Homo sapiens: one gene and its partners. The protein of the gene in region 1 interacts with the protein of each later gene in a pairwise test. Each region holds a gene or a part of one and is shown in the gene's direction. Other genes may lie near its edges.

What was found.
Region 2: the proteins of RIMBP3 (region 1) and A1CF interact in binary tests that used the Homo sapiens proteins (3 or more experiments, as listed by UniProt).
Region 3: the proteins of RIMBP3 (region 1) and PPIL1 interact in binary tests that used the Homo sapiens proteins (3 or more experiments, as listed by UniProt).
Region 4: the proteins of RIMBP3 (region 1) and TRAF3IP2 interact in binary tests that used the Homo sapiens proteins (3 or more experiments, as listed by UniProt).

What each region holds. Positions count from the first base shown.
Region 1 is NC_000022.11:18,604,857-18,609,145, reverse strand, and holds the end of RIMBP3 (RIMS-binding protein 3A), read left to right. Parts: coding exon 1-2,631; 3' UTR 2,632-3,331; downstream 3,332-4,289. UniProt on the Homo sapiens protein: Probable component of the manchette, a microtubule-based structure which plays a key role in sperm head morphogenesis during late stages of sperm development.
Region 2 is NC_000010.11:50,875,300-50,882,983, reverse strand, and holds part of A1CF (APOBEC1 complementation factor), read left to right. Parts: intron 1-7,684. UniProt on the Homo sapiens protein: Essential component of the apolipoprotein B mRNA editing enzyme complex which is responsible for the postranscriptional editing of a CAA codon for Gln to a UAA codon for stop in APOB mRNA.
Region 3 is NC_000006.12:36,854,329-36,858,487, reverse strand, and holds the end of PPIL1 (peptidyl-prolyl cis-trans isomerase-like 1), read left to right. Parts: intron 1-1,833; coding exon 1,834-1,902; intron 1,903-2,454; coding exon 2,455-2,675; 3' UTR 2,676-3,659; downstream 3,660-4,159. UniProt on the Homo sapiens protein: Involved in pre-mRNA splicing as component of the spliceosome. PPIases accelerate the folding of proteins. Catalyzes the cis-trans isomerization of proline imidic peptide bonds in oligopeptides. Catalyzes prolyl peptide bond isomerization in CDC40/PRP17.
Region 4 is NC_000006.12:111,602,421-111,610,279, reverse strand, and holds the start of TRAF3IP2 (E3 ubiquitin ligase TRAF3IP2), read left to right. Parts: upstream 1-4,401; 5' UTR 4,402-4,504; intron 4,505-7,859. UniProt on the Homo sapiens protein: E3 ubiquitin ligase that catalyzes 'Lys-63'-linked polyubiquitination of target protein, enhancing protein-protein interaction and cell signaling. Transfers ubiquitin from E2 ubiquitin-conjugating enzyme UBE2V1-UBE2N to substrate protein.

The sequences.
Region 1 (4,289 bases):
CAAGTTTCAGAGACAGTCCCTGCCAGCCAACCTCTGTCCAAGAAAACCAGCTCCCAGTCAAACTCCTCCTCTGAGGGGTCGATGTGGGCCACCGTGCCGTCCTCCCCTACTCTGGACAGGGACACAGCCAGTGAGGTGGATGACCTGGAGCCTGACAGCGTGTCCCTGGCCCTGGAAATGGGGGGCTCGGCGGCTCCTGCTGCCCCCAAGCTCAAGATCTTCATGGCTCAGTATAACTACAACCCATTTGAGGGGCCCAATGATCACCCTGAGGGTGAGCTGCCCCTCACAGCTGGGGACTACATATATATCTTCGGGGACATGGATGAGGATGGCTTCTATGAGGGGGAGCTTGAGGATGGCCGGCGGGGGCTGGTGCCCTCCAACTTCGTGGAGCAGATTCCGGACAGCTACATCCCAGGCTGCCTGCCTGCCAAATCCCCTGATCTTGGCCCCAGTCAACTCCCAGCGGGGCAGGATGAAGCTCTGGAGGAAGACAGCTTATTATCTGGGAAAGCCCAGGGAGTGGTGGACAGAGGGCTGTGCCAGATGGTCAGGGTGGGCTCCAAGACAGAAGTAGCAACAGAGATCCTGGATACCAAGACGGAAGCCTGCCAGCTGGGCTTGCTGCAGAGCATGGGGAAGCAGGGCCTCTCCAGACCCCTTCTGGGGACCAAAGGGGTGCTCCGTATGGCTCCCATGCAGCTACACCTGCAGAATGTCACAGCCACATCAGCCAACATCACCTGGGTCTACAGCAGCCACCGCCACCCCCATGTGGTATATCTTGATGACCGAGAGCATGCCCTGACCCCAGCGGGCGTGAGCTGCTACACCTTCCAGGGCCTGTGCCCCGGCACGCACTACCGGGCGCGGGTGGAGGTGCGGCTGCCACGGGACTTGCTGCAGGTGTATTGGGGAACTATGTCCTCCACCGTCACCTTCGACACACTCTTGGCAGGACCTCCCTACCCACCGCTGGATGTGCTGGTGGAGCGCCATGCCTCGCCAGGTGTCCTGGTGGTCAGCTGGCTCCCTGTGACCATTGACTCAGCTGGGTCCTCCAATGGAGTCCAGGTCACCGGTTATGCTGTGTATGCAGATGGGCTTAAGGTTTGTGAGGTCGCCGATGCCACTGCTGGGAGCACCCTATTGGAATTCTCCCAGCTACAGGTGCCCCTCACGTGGCAGAAGGTCTCAGTGAGAACCATGTCACTCTGTGGTGAGTCCCTGGATTCAGTGCCTGCTCAGATCCCCGAGGACTTCTTCATGTGTCACCGATGGCCAGAGACTCCACCCTTTAGCTACACTTGTGGCGACCCATCCACCTACAGAGTCACCTTCCCCGTCTGCCCCCAGAAGCTGTCACTGGCTCCTCCGAGTGCCAAGGCCAGCCCCCACAACCCTGGAAGCTGCGGGGAGCCCCAGGCCAAGTTCCTAGAAGCATTCTTTGAAGAACCCCCAAGGAGGCAATCCCCAGTGTCCAACCTGGGCTCAGAAGGAGAATGTCCGAGTTCAGGGGCTGGCAGCCAAGCCCAGGAGCTTGCAGAGGCCTGGGAGGGCTGTAGAAAGGACCTGCTCTTTCAGAAGAGTCCCCAGAACCACAGGCCACCTTCAGTCAGTGACCAGCCTGGGGAGAAGGAAAATTGCTCCCAGCACATGGGCACCAGCAAAAGCCCTGCTCCAGGATTCATCCATCTACGCACCGAGTGTGGGCCCAGGAAAGAACCGTGTCAGGAAAAGGCTGCCCTTGAGAGGGTACTTCGGCAAAAGCAAGATGCCCAAGGGTTCACACCTCCCCAGCTGGGCGCCAGCCAACAGTATGCATCTGACTTCCATAACGTTTTGAAGGAGGAGCAGGAGGCACTGTGCTTGGATCTGTGGGGCACAGAGAGGCGAGAGGAGAGGAGGGAGCCTGAGCCCCACAGCAGGCAAGGACAAGCTCTGGGGGTGAAGAGAGGGTGCCAGCTCCATGAGCCCAGCTCGGCACTGTGTCCAGCTCCATCCGCCAAAGTCATCAAGATGCCCAGGGGTGGCCCCCAACAGCTGGGGACGGGGGCCAACACTCCAGCCAGGGTCTTTGTGGCCCTCTCTGATTACAACCCCCTGGTGATGTCTGCCAACCTCAAGGCTGCAGAGGAGGAGCTGGTCTTCCAGAAAAGGCAGTTGCTAAGAGTGTGGGGCTCTCAGGACACCCATGATTTCTACCTCAGCGAGTGCAACAGGCAAGTGGGCAATATCCCCGGGCGCCTAGTGGCTGAGATGGAGGTGGGGACAGAGCAGACTGATAGGAGGTGGCGTTCTCCGGCCCAAGGGAACCTGCCTTCTGTGGCCCACCTCGAGGACTTTCAGGGGCTCACCATCCCCCAGGGTTCCTCCCTGGTGCTCCAGGGGAACTCCAAGAGACTCCCACTGTGGACTCCAAAGATCATGATAGCAGCTCTGGACTATGATCCTGGGGATGGGCAAATGGGGGGCCAGGGGAAGGGCAGGCTGGCGCTGAGGGCAGGAGACGTGGTCATGGTTTACGGGCCCATGGATGACCAAGGATTCTATTATGGAGAGTTGGGCGGCCACAGGGGCCTGGTTCCTGCCCACCTGCTGGATCACATGTCCCTCCATGGACACTGAGCAAGCATCCTTGCCCAGGTAGTGGCCTCTGGCTGCTCACACCCTGCCAGAGGAGAAGCAAGCGTTCAGACCCTCACACCAGCACCCCTCCTCACCACCATAAGTAGCATGTGCTCCAAGTGCCACTGTGTTAAACTGATGGTAGTCCTTAAGCGTCCCCTAGGCTCTGAAAGTAGCAGGACTTAAGCCTGAGTTATTTGCAAAAGCAAACACAACAAGCCAACCCCTGAGAGTCTGAGAAGCCATTTCAAAGTTGCTGATAACTATGGCAGGTATACGGAGAAGCGCCTTTTTCTGTGGCCAATGTGTGTTTTCTCTGGGAGGTTAAGGTTATCTGTCCATTGCCTTGTACGAAAGTCTCAAGAAAAGTCTACATCTTAAAAAAGAAAAAGCAATCTGAGTGTTATTTTTGGGATGTGAGGGTGATCTGGCTGCGACATGTGTCACCCCATTGATCATCAGGGTTGATTCGGCTGATCTGGCTGACTAGGCGGGTATCCCCTTCCTCCCTCACCACTCCATGTGCGTCCCTCCAGAAGCTGTGTGCTCAATGGAAGAGGATGACCATCCCCGATAGAGGACGATCGGTCTTCAGTCAAGAGTATAAGAGTAGCTGCGCTCCCCTGCTAGAACCTCCAAACGAGCTCTCAGAATGTTATTTTTCTGTCTTATGTCCAACCCCTCATTAAAATGTTCATAGAAAAAACATATTTTAGAAGTTGAAGCACAACCAAGGAAACATGAGCCTGGCTTTCCTCCCTCTCACTTCTGCGCATTGGGTCCGCAAGGGCTACAGAAATGTTTTCCTGGCTGAGGAAGGGAGGGTGCACCCTTCTGCTTTTTTTTTCCTGGCTGCAGTCTATTCCCAGAACACATTCCATCACATGGTTCCCAGAACTCAGATTGTGCGGTGGCCACGTCATCATTGGCTGGGGCTCACAGTCACAGCAGCAGAGGCCTCCCTAAACCTCCCTCTCCTCTAGCCCCACCCGCTGTCCCCTGCTCCTCATGCCCCCATGCTGTGTCCCCTGGCCTCACTTCCGTTGCCATGTTTTCATAATCCTCTCAGGCTCTGGGCAGCAGCGCTGCCCACAGTAGGACCAGATCATGTAAGGAAAATACTGCAGGCTCATCTTGGGGCTGCACTGGCGACCTGAGAACACCTTATCCTACTGTACCTGCTGCACCTCATCTGACACCAGCTTCTCTGCTTTGCCCAAGGTCCCTAGGCCCTGAATGCTTACTTTTTAAGGTCAGCCTGGCTCAGGATATGCTAGTTTGGCTGCAGAGGGTCCTACTAAGAGCCAGGACTGAGGAGCAAGGCCCAAAAAACTCCTCTGGGCCACATCTTCCCCGAGGGCATCCCCGCAGGGAGGCCGTGTGCTGCTGAGCCCTTTGCTAGGAGTGGGTAGTCAGTGTCTCCCACATGACGATCTTGCTTCATTCAGATAGCTTTCGTAGCTCACTGCTTTTCTGAGTCACTTCCTGTGAGGGATCACCTTGGGATGGAATTTCTTTTCCTTTTTTTTTTTTATTTGGAGACAGAGTCTCGCACTGTCACCCAGGCTGGAGTGCAATGGCACAATCTCGGCTCACCACAACCTCTGTCTCCCGGGTTCACACAATTATCCTGCCTTAGCCTCCCGAGTAGCTGGGAT
Region 2 (7,684 bases), on another chromosome or scaffold:
GAAAACTCTTAGTTATAAAACCCCAACACCTTTTCACCCAAACCCATGGGACACCCTGACACAGTGCATGCTCATTTCATCATGGAGGCAGTTGATGTTAAAAATCTGTTTCAGTAACTGTCTTTTAAAAATTGTCATCCCTTAGAAAGCTGAGTAGTACTGTGGGTACTATTGCACAATGGTTTTCATTACCTTATGTGTCTCTAAAATGACTCAATAAGTTCAAACAAGACAGTATTGATCGACAGAGGATAAACACCATTTTATCTTATTCACAGAAACAGTAACCAGGCTCCTGCAAAGTGCAGCTCTCACAATCCAACTGCCCCCAGGAAAAGCATCTGGAAAAGGAGCAGCACTCTTGCGGTGACATTCTGTATTAGAAATCTGTATCCCATCTGCTCCTTGGCCTGATCCTGTAAAATCTGGAGAGTTATTAACAAATGTTTGCTGCTGATTCAACCAGGAAAGCTAGTTCATCATTTCATTTCATCAAATCTACTCCAACTAGGTTATCAGTTTTTTGTTGTTGATGATGGTTTGTTTGTATGAGATGGAGTATCGTTCTGTTGCCTAGGCTGGAGTGGTGGTGCAATCTCAGCTCATCACAACCTCCACCTCCTGGATTCAAGTGATTCTTGTGCCTCAGCCTCCCGAGTAGCTGGGATTACAGGCACACGCCACCATGCCAGGCTAACTTTTGTATTTTTAGTAGAGACGGGGTTTCATTATGTTGGCTAGGCTGGTCTCGAACTCCTGAACTCATGATCTGCCTGCCTCAGCCTCCCAAAGTGCTGGGATTACAGGCATGAGCCAACATGCCCGGTCTAGGTTATCAGTTTTAATGACCACTTAGAATTTTTAATTTAATAAACTAAAATTTTGTATTGAATATTTTTGATTGATGCAATCCAAAAATTAAAACATGCCCTTTTGTAAAAAATCATCGTCCTGTATAAGATATGCTGGTATCTTGAGAGCTCTAATTTGATTTCTTTTAAACATATGTAAGCTAAGATTTTTATCCTATATAGATTTATATGTGGAGTTTTATGCATATATGTATTAACAATCACATGGAGAACATTTTCCAAGTTTGTTTATTCAATAGGAATTGGTCCCTGGTAATATTAAGAGAGAAATACTAATAAGGATGTAAGATAAATCCTTCTGATTTGCACAGTTAAGTGCAATGCTCTGCTCCAGATGTAATATGACTAAAGAGAATTAACACATGACAATTTAGGCAGACAGAATGTCTAAGTGAGCAGATTGGTTTATAATTCTATAAAATCCCACCTGCAGTAGTGATGTAGTGATGCCTTCCCTCCCTCCAGCAATTAAAAACTATTCATTGTTTTAGGATGCCCAATTGATTTAAAAATCACTAGGTTTAAGTAGTAGAACTAACTACAATATCTTATTTCCATAGGATATTCTAGTTTATAAAGCTTTTCATATACAAGAACTTATAAAGATTTTTAATGGCAAATTTCTTATAGTTGATGTCAATTCAGTATGCCTAGTTTCTTCAAGGTAACTGTGTCAATATTCACCATTCCAATTGTACAAATCTGATTAACTGAAAGATGCTCCCACCTATCGTTTATAAGCCCAACTCTGTTTATGTAACACAATGATGTCCAACTTCACTGGACATTAACTAATGTACCTATCAGTTAAGAGGCTAGATGAGGCCGGGCGCAGTGGCTCACGCCTGTAATTCGAACACTATGGGAGGCCAAGGCAGGCAGATCACCTGAGGTCAGGAGTTCAAGACCAGTCTGGCTAACATGACGAAACCCCACCTCCAGAAAAATACAAAAATTAGCCAGGCATGGTGGTGGGTACCTGTAATCCCAGCTACCCAGGAGGCTGAGGCGGGAAAATCACTTGAACCCAGGAGGCGAAGGTTGCAGTGAGCCGAGATCGCACCATTGCACTCCAGCCTAGGCGACAGAGTGAGACTCCACCTCAAAAAAAAAAAAAGAGTCTAAATGAAAACAGTGAAGAGAGGACATAAAGGTCCATGTGGAAGGTGAGAGAAGAACCACCCCCATATGGGACCTAGAAGAAAACAGCCCTAAAAAGATGTAATTATAACTCAGTCCAGATGCTGTGACTAACACAGTGAAAGATATAAAGGAACAGAGGTTTATAAAATCTCCTACCTGCCTGGCAGGGGACTGGCAAAACATTGTGCACAAATGAAATTTTTTATTTCTATTGATTTTAGTATTCTATCCAGCTCTTCTACTGGGATTCTGCTTAGTGCTTATCTTTCCATCTGGGGCCTTCAGCATGAACTAAAATGTACTTTAAATTATTAGATGTAATTAAACTCTAATGCCTCTGATTATTTGAAATGGAAGTCAGAAATCAAAATCAGGTTCCATGGGGGGAAAACTGTGTTGGCACATATAGATGTTCATCTCAGGAATCCTCTTTCTAACCTTCTTTTCCGAAGATCCCTAAGAGTTCCTCGCCATTCATGTACTTACTACCAACTAATTATAATTGGCACCCTACGATGATGATAACAATGATGTTAATAAAATCTCTTACATCCTCTTACATCCTGCCACATGCCAGGCACATAGGTTAACTCATTTAATCCTCCATCACTCTATGGAATGGGTACTATTGCTACGCCATTTTTCCAATAAAGCAGCTACAGCTTAGGGACACAGAGAAATTTGCCCCAGGTCACACCACTAATAAGTGGTGCAGGAGTGAGTCCGGGCAGTCTGGCACAGGCCACCCTGTGAACAAAGGACAAATGGAACACTGGGAAGCATCAAGGCTTAGAACTGAAGAAAACTTTTGAGATCCTTTATTTGACAGAGAAAAGCAAGTTGGGTTCCCCAGCTTGGGTTTTTGTTAGAATGAGAACCCAAGAGCAGAACCTGAACCCTCTGTGGATACTTTTCCATTATACCACTTCCCACTGTAAAGCATTTCTAATTCAGCCTGATTCTCTGTGAAAATTCTGAGAGACGAATTAATAGAATCCCTATAGTTAAACAGGAATACTCCCTTCACTCCAAGTCTCACCTTCCTTGCTGTGCCCAGACTCATGGACTGACCTAGCCAGAGACTCAGTTAAAGGAGACCCATTTTGTGACTTGGAGAGACTGACAGGCCCACATCACAGAGGAAATACATGCAGACACAGACATGGATATGGTTTAGCTTTTTGTCCCCACCCAAATCTCATCTTGAATTGTAATCCTTAGGCCTGAAGGAAAGAATCTGGTGAGAAGTGATAGGATTATGGGGGTGGTTTCCCCCATGCTGTTTTCATGATAATGAGTGAATTCTCATGAGACCTGGTGGTTTTATAAGTGTTTGACTTTTCCTTCTGTACACACTACTTCTCTCCCCTGCTGTCACATAAGAAGGCCTAAGCTTGCTTCCCCTTTGCCTTCCACCATGATTGTGAGTTTCCTGAGGCCTCCCCAGCCATGCAGAACTGTGAGTCAATTAAACCTCTTTCTTTATAAATTACCCAGTCTCAGGTATTTCTTTGTAGCAGTATGAGAACAGACTAATACAGGCACCATGAACATAGTGACAGGATAAACCATGGAGGCATTGATAAAAATAAAAAGTAATTGTGATGAATGACTTGGTTGCAATTACACTCAAATTCTGTTAGTGTCTGAAGAGGACATAGCACCTCCTACCTGGAGGACATACCCTTTTCCCCATGGAAAAAATAATTGGGCTGCTAGGTCTGTGTCTGCTAAGGGAGTCCCATATTTAAACTGACCTAATTCAGAACTTTAAATTGAGACTCAGATGCTCCCAAATAGCAGCTCCACCAACCTGAATAGAGTTACTCATTTAGAATAAGAGTTTGTTCCCACAAGTTTTGTTAAAATACAAATTAGTTGGGATGCGGGGTGTGAGTGATAGGGACTAAAATCGCTTAACAGACTAGCCTGGCAAAGCCCTGTGGGAAGCAAGTTTTGATGATAGGGAAGAGAAGATGTCAAGAGCAGATGGTCCAGGGAGGAAGTGTCACAAGTAACTTGGGGGTGATATAAGGGACTTGAGTAGCAGGTATTTGTCTGATCTTTAAGGAATTAACTTATTAAAGAATTTTGTTAGTAAAGTCATTTGAGTATCACACTTGCAACATACTAATTCATCCATGTCTAGTTTTCTCATTAAATCACAGATATTTAACAGGTGCATTAACTTGAATTGACATCATGCAGCAAATGCCATTATATGGACCCTTAAGATATTTTAAGAGAAAAACCTATAATGCCTGGAAACTCTTAGTTTTCTCTGACATTTAAAAACAAGCCGTAAAATCAAATCCTTTCTATAATAATTTAGTAACTCAGAATTGCAAAGGATTTCCTAAAGCCCAATGATCCAAAGCTCTGACCTGTGATGTTGGCATAGCAGAGTGGGAGACAAATCATATGTTAAAGCAGAAGGCTCTGGATCTGGAATGCTTGGATACAAATTCTGGCTCTACCACTTGCTACAATTTAACTCTAGGCAAATTACTGAACTCTGTGACTATTTCCTCTTCTGTAAAGTCAGGGTTGTTTCAATAATTAGATCAGAAATTGTAAAGTGCTTAGAATAATACCAAGCAAGTGTGCATAAACTTTAGCCATTTAGCTATAACTCTCATCATATTTCTGTGTTGATTACAAAATGCTTTACTAGAGGAAAATAGATGAGAAAGAGGCCATGAGGTAAAAATGTACAGTGCTTTTTAAAGTAGAATGAGGTGGCTTAGAAATTAATTCTATCCCCATCACTGGCTTGTAGTAGAAATTTGAAACAGTCTCTCCCTGATTCTCTGGCAGTTTTTCTCTTTTTTTCTTTTTTTTCTTTTTGAGATGGAGTCTCACTCTGTCACCCAGGCTGGAGTGTAGTAGCGTGATCTCAGCTCACTGCAACCTCCGCTTCCCGGGTTCAAGCGATTCTCCTGCCTCAGCCTCCTGAGTAGCTGGGACTACAAGCATGTGCCACCACAACTGGCTAATTTTTTGTATTTTTGGTAGAGACAGGGTTTCACCTTGTTAGCCAGGATGGTCTCGATCTCCTGACCTCGTGATCCTCCTGCCTCAGCCTCCCAAAGTGGGGGGATTACAGGCGTGAGCCACGGCGCCCGGCCCTCTTTCAGTTTTTTCTAAGACAGAGACACTCCCTATCACAGACAGGGTCTTCTAAATTAGTAGAGAATGATTTGAAGGAAACTGGGTAATTATCAGAGGAAGTAAAAGAGAAATACAGATCCTCACACCAGAATGCAAATCTCTAAGACTTTATTATTTTCATCACTATGAAAGAAAAGATCAGTACTCAAAGCCACTTATGATGATGCATGTAAATTAGCATAAAATCAGAACAAATATAATATGGCTTTTAAAATAGAAACATAAGGCTATCTTTCCTTACAAGTGTCAGATTGCTTCTGTGCCACTGTAACACAGAGCTTTAGATGGATTTTTTAAAGCTTCACTCAGAGATCAAATGTACTCCATTAGTCAGTGATTGGCAGACTTGGTGAAAATTGAGTTTTCAACTTAAATTTCTCCAAATTGGTCTGAGGAAACCAGATGCAGCAACTAAGTTCAGAAGGTCAGAGTCTCAATAAGGTTAAAAAGAGAGGGAGAAACATAACACTAGAAGTATGAATGAATGAAATAGACCACACACAGCTCATCAGGTCTCTATAATATACCACGCAAATAATTGGTACCAGGACTATTGAATAATCAACTGCTTTTAAGCTGAAGAATATCTACATTGTATACCATGATTACCACTTTACCAATTCAAAAGACAACTTAAAAATTAAACATATATACAAAGACATTCTGCTTTTTTCATTAGGCCATGTCATTCTATAATTTCTAAATTCTGTCAACTCTCTTCCCCAGGAATCTTCTAGAAGTCAGGCATTTTGGGAATAGTTGAGTATCATAATTGAATAAAGATAGCACAACAGTCACCTGTAGTAGTCTGATCTTACAGGTACTAGAACAATAACAGCACAAAAACAGAGTTACGTGTATGTATTATTCAGTGTTCTCTAGAAGAAAACATAGTATATGTATATATAGGCAATACATTTATAAATGCATAAAACAAATATAAATTTGTGTAAGTATGCATATAAATATGTAAGTCTACACATATAAATACAAATAAAGAGATTTATTCTATGGGATTGGCTCATGCAATTATAGAAGCAGGAGTCCCAAGATTTGCAGTAAGCAAGCTGGAGATTCAGGGGAGCCCATGCATAGTTCCAGCCCAAGTCCAAAGGCTTGAGACCCAGAAAAGCAATAGTGTAAGTTCCAGTCCAGAAGCCATCAGGTTAGAGACGCAAGAAGAGCCAATATTTCAAGTCCGAAGATCAGGAAAGGCCAATGTCCCTGCTCTGTCATGCAGGCCCAGCTCCCTCTTACTCAGCTTTTATGTTTTATTCAGGTTTTCAATTGATTGGATGAGGCCCACTCACATTGCATCTGCTGTTAAAATTTTCCAAGATCTTTTTGGGGTTAAAAACCTATCATTCATCTCTCAATCTTCAGTGTTGACAAGGACAGAGCACTTATGAGTATTCCTGTTTCTGAGTTTCTGATAAGCTTGTCCAAGTGGAGCACAGGCTGGACAATTTATAAGACAGTATTGAAGTCAGAGCAATTACAAAAGGAAAGGGGTAGGTTTCTTGTGTGATGTGCTGCAAACACTGACCTCTCAGAATTTATTCGGCCCTGTGTGTATATACGTATTCATGTCTGCACATATGTGCTAGTTCACTTATACATCTATACATACACACAATCACATATACCCAAGATCTGATGGAATAGACATGAATTTGGCTTAGCCAGGGAAATTATAGAAAGAATAATGGGAATCCTAGGCATGTGGGAAATGGGAAACAAGGACAAAGGCGCCTAGGTAAAATAAAAAGCAACTGGTGTGCCTAGGAGACCTGATGGACTTGAGCATGGAATAGCTCCAGACTTGTATTGAAAGAAAATCAGGAAAGTCAAGTTACGACCAGGTCATGGCAGGCACTGAATGTCAGGTTAAGGGGCTGAACTGTTTCTTTCTAGTTAGTGATGGGTCCAGTGAAGGATTTGGGGCAGGAGAATACTAGAAGGAATATTTTAGGGAGATTGATCTTCCAGTGGTGTGCAGAACAGATATGCCATGCCTAGAGGGTAGTAAGCAGTGACATTTCTTTCACTCTACACTTTAGCTGAGCTCAGGGTAAGTCCAGTAATGGAAGATGGGGTGGGAAATAGAGCTAGGAGTGTAGAGAGGGCAACAGGTAAGGATACATATGTACCAAAAGCAGAAAACAAGTTAAGATCCAGGCTTCATGAGGTGCCTATATTGAAGATTGCTCTGGATAAAGAGACTGTTAGGACTTCAGAGTTAGAATTCATAGCAATTCACAGAACTGCTCAGGCTCTTCATTATTCACCTGACTCAACTCTCCTACATCTGCTCCTTTCTCCTAAGAGATTTCCTTGCTCTCTGTCCTTTCTCTACCCCACAGCTTTTGCTTCCTTTCCGTACATAGAACCACACAACAAGTACTAGTTTTATGCATGCAGTGGTCATATAAATATCTTATTGGCGAGTCCTCATCAAAACTGAGTTGAAACAAACCATTTGAGCCAGAATTTAGTAA
Region 3 (4,159 bases), on another chromosome or scaffold:
ATAGCAGGCAGTAGAGGAAGTGAGCTGCCAGCACTGGGCTGCAGGGCAAGCAGAGTACCAATCCAGTGTTTACTTTGTTCTAGGCTGTTTTGTCGTGACCGTTCAACTTGGAGAAACCAATGTAGTTCAGTAAGGCATATGATTGACTACATAATTGATTAGTATTGGTTAGGAAAGTTGCCTCCTGTTTTGACATGTTTTCCTGTGAGAAAACCATGTTTAACTTACATCTTTTTTTTTTTTTTTTTTTTTTTTTGAGACAGTCTTGCTCTGTCGCCCAGGCTGGAGTGCAATGGCATGATCTCGGCTCACTGCAACCTCCACCTACTGGGTTCAAGCAATTCTCCTGCCTCAGCCTCCCAAGTAGCTGGGACTACAGGTGTGTGCCACCATGCCTGGCTAATTTTTTTTTTGTATTTTTAGTAGAGATGGGGGTTTCACTATGTTGGCCAGGCTGGTCTCGAACTCATGACCTCGTGATCCACCTGCCTTGGCCTTCCAACGTGCTGGGATTATAGGCATGAGCCACCGCGCCTGGTCTAACTTACATCCTTTTGCTCTTAGAGCAAAACCTGCCTGAGCTTAGGGTATCCAGCCCAGCACCCTGCTCTTGTGGGCATAATATAAATAACATTTGGTGGTGATGCTGCTAGCAAATAATTCCCAATCCCATGTTTCTTCATTTTCCCTTTATTCATTTATTTAGAGTCAAGGTTTTGCCTCTTGCCTAGACTGGAGTATACTGACATGATCATAGCTCACCGTAAACTCAAACTCCTGGGCTCAAAGCAGTCCTCCTGCCTCAGCCTCCTAAGGAGCTGGGACTACAGGCATGTGCTACCACATCTGGCTGAATTTTAAAATTTTTTTGTGAGCCAGGTGCAGTGGTTCACGCCTATAATCCCAGCACTTGGGAAGCCAAGGAGGGAGGATTGCTTGACGCCAGGAGTTTGAGACCAGCCTGGGCAACGTAGCAAGACCCCATCTCTAAAAAAAAAAAATTTATGGAGTCAGGGTCTCGCTCTGTGGCCCAGCTCAAACTCCTGGCCTCCAGCAGTCCTCCTGCCTCAGCTTCCCAAAGTGCTGAGATTTTAGATGTGAGCCACCACACCTGGCCCTGTTTTCTCTTAATGATGTACTGCCTCACCTCTCAGTGGACTCTGCCGACCGTAATGTCCCTTTCTGCCACATTGCCACTTACCAGCTATTTCTCCTTCAGCTGGATAGCTTTAACTTAAATGAATTTTATTTTCCATCACCTAGGTTAAGGGTGGCAAATAGGTTTCAACTCTGGGGCTATTACTGATTAATTAATAACGGCTGCCTGAGTTCTGGGTTGATAACATTCAGAGGCAAATCTAGCTCAGCAGGGAAGAATACTGATTGATTGGCAATGTCTGTGATGGGCACAGGGATAGGACTTGGGGCACTCATGTCTAAAATACTCAAAAAAAGGTTAAAAATCAAGAAACCTCTTAACACATCAGATTATGAATGGTGGTTATCTCTAGATGGTCAGGTTACAGAGGATTTTAATGTTCTTTTGATAATGTTCTATGTTTTCTACCTTTTTGATAGTGAACATGTATTATTTTAATGTGCAGGAAAAAATAGCGTTATTTTGAAAAGGAAAGTCTTATCGGAATGAAACCAATGATTTGAATGTGCTATTAGTGCTAGATTCTGTAGTTGCAATATACCTAGCAGTGGGGTAGGTGTCACTGCCTTTTCCTTTCCTCTACTCTGAGAAATCCTTTGACCCTGGGCCATCATTCTTGCTGTGAGATAGAATGTGTGACTGGCTGATTCATGTGTCATCTTCCAATCGGGCAGGTCGAGGTGGTGCATCTATCTATGGCAAACAGTTTGAAGATGAACTTCATCCAGACTTGAAATTCACGGGTAAGTGTATAATTTGGCTGGACTGGGTAGGAACGGGGATTTTAAAAGCTCACTCTTTTGGCCATGATTCAAGGTGAATGCCTGACACCGTGGCATGGTGCCAGATAGCTGCCCAGCCATGGCGCCATGAAGTGCCCTGGTGGATTAGAGAAAGCAGCGCCTCTCACAAAGTTCTGAGCAATTCAGAGCACTGGTCGGTGTGTTCTAGACTCTAACTACTTGTTAAAGGTCACAGGATATCAAAAGTGTCCTCAAAGAAACAGGAAACCTTGCTGGGTTTTTGAGGGCAGTCAGGAACATGGTCCACAGTTAGTGAGGAGCATCAGGGGTCAAGGCTGGGGAATAGGTGAGGACAAGGAAGATGAAGTCGCCAGAATAGTGTAGTGATGGCCTTTGTACAGGGCAGAGAGACTGCCCTGAGGGGTTGTCTGGGTCTGGACAGAGGCCAGAACAAAGTCCTGGCTGCTTTTTCATCCCTAGGATGGGGCAGCAGCTCTACACTGGACCTGTGGGGTTATTTATACTCTTTCCTTTCTTCCTTTTTCCCACCAGGGGCTGGAATTCTCGCAATGGCCAATGCGGGGCCAGATACCAATGGCAGCCAGTTCTTTGTGACCCTCGCCCCCACCCAGTGGCTTGACGGCAAACACACCATTTTTGGCCGAGTGTGTCAGGGCATAGGAATGGTGAATCGCGTGGGAATGGTAGAAACAAACTCCCAGGACCGCCCTGTGGACGACGTGAAGATCATTAAGGCATACCCTTCTGGGTAGACTTGCTACCCTCTTGAGCAGCTCTTCTGAGATGGCCCCAGTGAACCAGCTTCTAGATGACATAGAATGACATGTAATGCTAAATTCATTTTGGCTTTGCAAGTCATGAAGCTTAGGAGGCCTGGCATCTTGGGTGAGTTAGAGATGGAAGTACATTTTAATAGGATGCTTCTTTTCTCTTCCCCCAGTGCCTAGGTTGCCAGAGCATTTGCACAAATGCCCCTGTTTATCAATAGGTGACTACTTACTACACATGAACCATAATGCTGCTTCTTGTGCATGTCTGCTCTGATATACGTCGAACAATGTAGCAGCCACTGTCATTTCTCAGTGGTTTTGCCTAACCAAACTTCTTCCTAAGGAGATTTATATTCTGGCCTACACAGCAGTCCTTGATGGCTGACAGCCACAGAATTCCAAACCAAGTAGTGTCTGTCAGCCCTCTTAACTCTGTGCACGCCCTATTTCAGTCTTTTACATTTGTTCTTCTAGGGAATGTATGCATCTCTATATATATTTTCCCTCTCAAAACCAGAACATCAACAGTGCTGTTTCTGACACTTCAGACATCCCACGCAAAGCCACATTGAATTTTTGCCAAATGAAAAACACATCCAACAATCAAGTTTCTAAGAAGGTGTCAAGTGGGGAATAATAATAATGTATAATAATCAAGAAATTAGTTTATTAAAAGGAAGCAGAAGCATTGACCATTTTTTCCCAGAGAAGAGGAGAAATCTGTAGTGAGCAAAGGACAGACCATGAATCCTCCTTGAGAAGTAGTACTCTCAGAAAGGAGAAGCGCCACTCAAGTTCTTTTAACCCAAGACTTTAGAGAAATTAGGTCCAAGATTTTTATATGTTCAGTTGTTTATGTATAAAAATAACTTTCTGGATTTTGTGGGGAGGAGCAGGAGAGGAAGGAAGTTAATACCTATGTAATACATAGAAACTTCCACAATAAAATGCCATTGATGGTTGAAATTGCTGCTGTGGTCTGATTCTAAATATTGTATGAGGTTCCAATGGTCATTTTAATCCCAGTCATCTTAAGTAGTAGTACAGAGATTGAATGTTCAAGATTTCACATCATTTTAGGCTTGTGGATCTCCAGTAGACTTCTCCCTCTTTAAGAGCAATTCTAACTTTAAAAGGGCAGAACCAGAGAAAGAATTAAGTGACAGAAATTGACATTTCTGAATAAGAGGTGTATTCATCTGTTTTCACATTGCTATAAAGACACTACCTGAGACTAGGTAATTTATAAACAAGAGAGGTTTAATTGACTCACAGTTCCACATGGCTAGGGAGACCTCAGGAAACTTACAATAATGGTGGAAGGCAAAGGAGAAGCAAGCACCTTCTTTACAAGGTGGCAGGAGAGAGAGCGAGCACGGGGGAAACCACCATATTTAAACCATCAGATCTCATGAGATCTCCCTCACTATCGTGAGAACAGCATGCAGGGGGAAAATGCCCCATGA
Region 4 (7,859 bases), on another chromosome or scaffold:
GTTGTCAAGAGTTGTGCAAAGAAAGTGTGTTACCTGTGCTCCACCCAAGCATGTAGGAAGAACAGATGGCAACAGGGCAATGGAGGGTAGGGGTTGGGGGGCTGTGGCGGGGTGCAGGGAGGGGGCAGTAATAACATCCACCTGGAAGGGAGACTGCTCTGGGCTTGACTCCTCCATAGATGAGCTGTGTGACCTTGCAGAAGTTACTCAGTATCTCTGAGCCTCAGAGTCCTCAAAGTTAAAGTGGGAATGACAGTAAACACACCTCACAGGACTGTTTGGAGGATGAGATATGCTCAAAGGGAGTGTAGGGTAGGTCCTCAGTGAAGAGTTGCTCTCCCGTGACAGCAATTCAAAAGCTGTGTGTGTTCGCCTGGGTCACCTGTACTTCACCATAACTGCCTCAGGCAGGTTCAGAGGAGATTTCTCCTGTTCAGGACACCCTCTCTAAACAGTGGCCATCCTCAGGCTGCTTTTCAGCCCGGAGCCCCAGCAGAGGCTTCTAAGAGGGAACCATGAACTCATTCCCTGAAGTGCCTGCCTTTCTGCTCATGATAAATTTAGACAGGAGGCGAGCGGATCACCTGAGGTCAGGAGTTTGAGATCAGCCTGGTCAACATGGTGAAACCCCGTCTCCACTTAAAATACAAGAAAATTAGCTGGGTGTGGTGGCAGGCACCTGTAATCCCAGCTACTCGGGAGGCTGAGGTGAGAGAATTGCTTGAACCCAGGATGCAGAGGTTGCGGTCAGCCGACATCGTGCCATTGCACTCCAGCCTGGGAGACAAAGCAAGACTCCGTTTCAAACAAACAAACAAACAAACTGTAGACAAGAGGAAGGCCCAGCCAACAGCAATGAAAAGCAGCACTTCGGCACTTGTGTTCTTCCTACAGGGCTCTTAGGTCTCACACCCAGGAAAACAGTTGGTGGAGAACTGGAGAAAAGTTTCCCTTTGTTCTCCCTGGCGGGTTGTATTTCAGAGGTGGTACTCGGCAGAGCATCTTCAGGCCTTTCCCAATCCATTTAAGGACAACAAAGAGAAATGAAAAATATTTCCATTCCTGCTCCCCTCGCTCTCCCTGCTAGCTCCTCCCCTTGCCATTCTTCTTTGCTTTTCCGTTCCCATTTCCTAACTCCAGTAGCTCTCTCAAAGTATCCTGGTACCAACCGGACCACAGAAAATGCTATTTTTTCCTACCCTCCAAAAGATGACTCTAATAATAATTTTGAAGCAGAAACTTCAAAGCCAAGGTAATAAAACTTTTTTAAAAAACTTCATTCTTTTAAATGAAAAAGTCCTACATGTTATTGTGAAAAAAAGAATCAAATAGTCCATATGTATATATCATAAAGCCCTCTATCCTTATTTATTTTCCTCAATCGCATTCCCTTGAAGTGAGCACCACTAAACAGTTTGGCATACATCTTTCCAGATATTTCTAACTTGGTCACTGAACAGATACACAGTGATTGCCCACAATGTCCTAGGCAGGGCAGTGTGCTAGGTCCCCTGGGGCCCAGTGGTGAGCAAACACAAATCTATATGTTGGGCTGGGTGCAGTGAGGCACACGTGCAATCCCAGCATTTTGGGAGGCTGAGGTGGTGTAGGGTCCAGCCCCACAGGGTCAGTGGGTCTCTCTCCGTGTGTGGAGACGAGAGAGTGTAGAAATAAAGACACAAGACGAAGAGATAGAAGAAAAGACAGCTGGGCCCCGGGGACCACTACCACCAATGCGCGGAGACCGGTAGTGGCCCCGAATGTCTGGCTGCGCTGTTATTTATTGGATACAAAGCAAAAGGGGCAGGGTAAAGAGTGTGAGTCATCTCCAATGATAGGTAAGGTCACGTGGGTCACGTGTCCACTGGACAGGGGAACCTTCCCTGCCTGGCAGCCAAGGCAGAGAGAGAGAGGAGACAAAGAGAAAGACAGTTTATGCCATTATTTTTGTAGATCAGAGACTTTTAGTACTTTCACTAATTTACTACTGCTATCTAGAAGGCAGAGCCAGCTGTACAGGATGGAACATGAAGGCGGACTAGGAGCGTGACCACTGAAGCACAGCATCACAGGGAGACGGTTAGGCCTCCGGATAACTGTGGGCAAGGCTGACTGCTGTCAGGCCCTCCACAAGAGGTGGAGGGGCAGTCTTTTCTAAACTCCCCCGGGAACCCCTTTCCCCGTCTGCTAAGTAGCGGGTGTTGTTCCTTGACGCTTTTCGCTACCACTAGACCACGGTCCGCCTGGCAACAGGCGTCTTCCCAGATGCTGGCATCGCCGCTAGGCCAAGGAGCCCTTCTGGTGGCTCTGTCTGGGCATAACGGAAGGCTCGCACTCTTGTCTTTTGGTCACTTCTCACTGTGTCCCCTCAGCTCTTATCTCGTATGGCCTGGTTTTTCCTAGGTTATGATTATAGAGCAAGGTTTATTGTAATATTGGAATAAAGAGTAATTGCTACAAACTAATGATTAATGATATTCATATATAATCATATCTAAGATCTATATCTGGTATAACTATTCTTGTTTTATATTTTATTGTACTGGAACAGCTCGTGTCCTCGGTCTCTTGCCTCGGCACCTGGGTGGCTTGCTGCTCACAAGGTGGGAGGATCCCTTGAGACCAGGAGTTCAAGACCAGCCTCAGCAACACAGGGAGACCTGTCTCTAGAAAAAATTTAAAAATTAGCTAGGTGTGGCGGTGTGCACCTGTAGTCCCACCTACCCGGGAGACTGAGGCAGGAGGATTGTTTGAGCCCAGGAGGTCAAGGCTGCAGTGAGCTATGATTGCGCCACTGCACTCCAGCCTGGGCAATAGACTGAGACACTGTCTCTTAAAAAAAATCGATATACATATCTATGTGTGTGTATATGTCACATATATTGGCAAAAAATAAGATAATACTTTTAGTTAAATAATATCTCAGAGCCACTTTTTCATGTTAGTGGCTCAGATAATACATACATATTGATGATTTTTAATAGCTGCATCATTTTCTGCAAACCAAATGCAAACAACCTGTGTATACTGTGTTAAAAACAAGCTGCATTTTCTCTGCTTGTGGAATGTTGAGCAACCTGCTTCCTGTATCCTGCTTGAGCAGAACCTGGTACAATCTGAACAGGGATGCTCTGGGGCCTGTCCCCTTGATGAGAGTAGAGAGATAGCCGGCTGAGTGGACTGACACTTGGACCCCTTCAACAGGCAGACAAGTCCAGCACCAGGAGCATGGTGTGTCTGCCCAGGGCGCCCAGCTGGCCAGTGACATGGCTGAGTTCGTACCCAGGTCCTCCTGACTCCAAAGCTCCAGCTAACACTGCTCCCATTACTGACTGCTGCCCCGAAAGGCAGTTGTCTCTCTCTCTCTCTGTTCACATCGCTGGGTATCATCCTGCCTGCAGCGCTCCTTCATGCAATAAATTCTGCAGGCTACTGATTAAACAATGGGAAGGAAAGGGGAGAAAAAAAATCTTGAGGTCAGGAAAATGCAGCCAGAGGAGGTTAGTGTGCATGTGTGCATGTGTATGTATGTGTGTGTGTGTGTTCTTAAAATTAACCACTTTTTTTGTGCCTGACAATAGGGTGGTGTGTGTGCACAAGCCACAGGCATGTGTATGCTGTGTGTACACGTGTGTCCAGGAGCATGGTCAGTGAGCCCCCCCCCACCCCCCCAGTGGTTATGGGCAGCAAATACTGATTTTTTGGGTTTTTTTAAATTTTTTTTTTGAGACGGAGTCTTCGCTCTGTCGCCCAGTCTGGAGTGCAGTGGCGATCTCGGCTCACTGCAAGCTCCACCTCCCGGGTTCACGCCATTCTCCTGCCTCAGCCTCCCGAGTAGCTGGGACTACAGGCGTCCGCCACTACGCCCGGCTAATTTTTGTATTTTTTAGTAGAGACGGGGTTTCACCTTGTTAGCCAGGATGGTCTCGATCTCCTGACCTCGTGATCCTCCCGCCTCGGCCTCCTAAAGTGCTGGGATTACAGGCGTGAGTCACCGCGCTCGGCAATGCTGATGTTTTAAGCAGTTAGAGGAGGTGGAAGAAGCTCGACTCCCTCTTCTTCCCCATTATCTGCCCACAATCCCCTCCTTTGGAGCTGCTAATGATTACTAATTCTTAACATTCGAGTTCAATCTCCTCCCGGAGACACCCTCCCAGGCGAGGGCACTGCGACTACACTGAGGTTCTGCCCACTCCTGGGCAGCTTCTTAGCTGGGTGGCGAAAACAAAAATGCCGCCTAATTGGTCACTGGCCCTTTCTCATGAATGAAGGAGGTTTCTGTTTTAAGAAATAAAGTGACTCCTCAGCCGTTGATTCACTGCCCACAGGGAGATTTTGAGCAGAGGCTTCCTAGGCTCCGTAGAAATTTGCATACAGCTTCCACTTCCTGCTTCAGAGCCTGTTCTTCTACTTACCTGGGCCCGGAGAAGGTGGAGGGAGACGAGAAGCCGCCGAGAGCCGACTACCCTCCGGGCCCAGTCTGTCTGTCCGTGGTGGATCTAAGGTAAGTTATTCGGAGTTGCCACTTGCCTGGTCTTATTTCTTCACCTCTGACCTATTTCCCAAAGCACGCTGTTTCTCCTTTACTGAAACATTCTGCCTCTACTTTCCTCTGTGTTCGTCTCCCCTCCTTTAACTTGTTCGCACAGAGACCATCTTAGCTGAGAAAATGACAGTGAAGTTTGTGCTGCAAGGATGTGTTGCTAGTATAGTATTTCAGGCCAGCGAGCCCCGCCGGGTTAACCCTTTGAGGAGAGGAGGCTCGCACACGGGGACAGCTCGGAGCTGCCTGGGAACCATTCGTTTGGGTACTTAGTGTCCCCACAAGTTTCTCTCAAGAATTCAAGCCCCACTTCTCCAAAGAGAGAGCCAGGGATGGCAAAGATTAAGTAATTGGCTTTCAGCCCCAGAACACGTCAGTGGCAGTTTTCTCAATCCTTGTTTCGTGCAGGGGGGAAAAAAATCAACAGCACATTTTTGGGCCAGGAAGTTCTGCTGAGCTCTGTGCTGGCTGTGAGCCGCCTCCCGGCCCCTCTCCGCAGCCGCCCTCCAGCCCTCCCAGCCTGGCGCTGGACGGAGCCTTTGGGAACAAGGGGGAGAAATGCCAGAACTTGATCTTAGAAGCTAATCAAGCTTCTTGTGACTTTCAAGTTCAAGATGGTATCTTAGAATAGGGGGATTTTTTTTTTTTTAAAGGAACAGGAGAACAAGAGGCCAAATTTTTTAAAAGGACAAGAAACTTGGTTTCAAGTTCTTCACTTCTTGTGGTTCCATGACTTAGGCAATTCACTCTGACTCCACTAAGCCTGGATTTCTTCATCAGTAAATTGATGGGGGGTGGTGATCTAACATGAGTGTGTCAAATTCCCTTATAAAACAAAGCCAGGATAGTCCCAGAGGGGTAGTGGTAATGGGTGGTCTTCAAGACTTGTTTTGTTTACCGATTATTCACATATTTTAATTTTACCTCCCACTACCAGTTGGTTACCCCCTTGAGGAAAGGACTTTGTTTCCTGATATTTTTCTACCTCCCAGAATCCAGCATGCTACCAAATGCCTAGTAGGTGCTCACCCCCCTTCCATGTCAACTGCTTTGATTTCTGTTTCACTCGTCTGCTCTCAAGGCAAGAGGTAAAGCAGCAGTCAGGGCGAAAGGCTGGGAGACACGTGTCTCTGCGGGAGGGCTGCCTGGAATTGAGGCCTTATTACTGGCTCTAGCCAAATAGGAGAAAACAGGGAGTTTCTCGAATTAGTTCATGTCCCATTTGGGTTACCCAGGAAGGATAGTCTGTGCTATTGTCCACAGAGTCAAGGCAGGCCAGAGAACTGGCAGACAAGCCCAGCTCCAGAAGCCAGAGTTACTGCTGTAGCTGGACCTGGAAACCACTCCTCAGCTGGACCAGTCACTGTGTGTGGGGCCTTTAATGGGAGGGGAAGGGAAACTATGAAACACATCCTAATACCATGTAAGGGTGATGACTGTGATTAGAGACATTATTAGATGGCGGATACACAGAATCCTTAACTTTTTCCAGACCGTGACTTAAAAAAAAATTGTCATTGTTTCTTTTTGGCAATTACTTGCCATCAATACAGTTCAAACAGGCCCTAGCTGACTGGGATGGGCTGGTGCAGGACTTTTGGTTTCTGTGGGATGTCCTGGTGTAGTCCGTGTCATGTTTTTAGGCATTTCTCTCTATTCCCCTGGGATGAAAGGACAGGAATTTCAAGATATTTCACCTGCAATGAGTTCCTGATTTTATTTTCAAACAACGATGCACCATTATCTGAAAGCAGGCTAACTGTTGTGCACTTGCCAGCCTCGCTCTAATCCTTAAAGGCCACACACCACAGTCATTCTTAATCTGCTGCTGCAGCTACCAGTCACTCCATGATGGAGCATCAAAAGATGGATAATGTAGTTACTCTGCTCTGTTCCTTGCATGGGGTGGGTTAAACAGAAGTGAGGTCTGAGTAATGTACCAACATGTCGGATAGAAAGGTTCTTAACTCAGGGTTACTCATTTTTGGAAGGTGTAGAGACAGGAAATGTTAAAGCCTGCTTCTCCTGGGATTAAGGAGTTAGTGACTTTCAAATGCTCTGAAAAGAAAAAGAAGAGGAGAAGACAGTCATATCTGCAGGCATTCTTCAACAGGCATTCAGAAAGATTATGGTGGGGTAGTTTGTCTAAATGAAATCTTTGTTTTACACGTTGTAGAATGGAAATCTCAGGAATATCCTGAATTCAAATCATTTTTCTTCTGCAGGCAATTTTAAATTAGCTTCTAAAAACATATATGAATTGCAGGCAACTGCTGCAGAAAAAAAAGAGTGAACACAGATGAGGCATATTCAACTTTAAATTCCTTTCAGATCCAATGAAATGACCCCTAATGTTTGATCACATTTCCTTATCAAAACAATCCTGCAGTCTGAAGGATTTTTCCATGAGAAAGTGTCTGAGGACTGGAATCAAGAAGCTGCCCCCCGGGCCTCTCCTGTTTCTTCCCAATGCGTTGTCACCAAGATATTTTTAGTTCATGAAACTCAGGCTGTCCTTTCTCCCACTTATGGTCTTTGCCTCCCGTGCCCAGCAGGCCTCCTAGAAGCACACATGTGCTTGGCTGTGACTACTCAGCTCACTCTGTAGCTGTGTGTGCACGCCTTGTGTGTGTGTGTGTGTGTGTGTGTGTGCACACCTTGTGTGTGCACAGACCTTCCCGGATACCAGGAGTTGTAGACTGGCTGAAGAAGGGTGGGCTTCCATCCATGGGGTGATCCTTAGGTCTGTGCTGGTTTGGCTTGGTTCCCTGATAAGGCAGCTGAACTCAAGCCCTTTAGGAGGGCCAGGACTGACCGGAGCTCCCAGCCTGTGCCCCTCTCCTCGCACCCCACAGGCCGCACCCCACAGACTGAGGCTGCCTGGGGTCTTGGCAGCTCCCTCAGCAATGAGGGATACTTGCTCTCCGCTGCCTCATTGTTTCCCTGCAGTCAGGATGCCAGTGTTTTTTCCCTTTCCCCTTCCCAGAGTCAACAGGTCTCCCTCCCCGCTCTGAACTCTCTTCCTACTCTGAGCTGTCTGTCCAAACTCTTCCTGGCCTCCCAGCTTACCCTATGACACTCTTACCTTTCACCTATATTCATTCTTTCCCTTCTCTTCCAACTGCCCCTTCTCATACCCAGCACTACATACAAATTACAAGTAAATAAGTGTCTCTCCTACACCAATAAAAGGCAAATACAAAAAAATCCTTCAGCGTTTCCCCACTTTCCTTACTTCTCTTCCGTTCTCCTTCCTTCCTTTCTCTCCCTTCCTCTTCCTCTCTTGGTTTTTCCTTTCTACCCCTTCCTCTCCTTC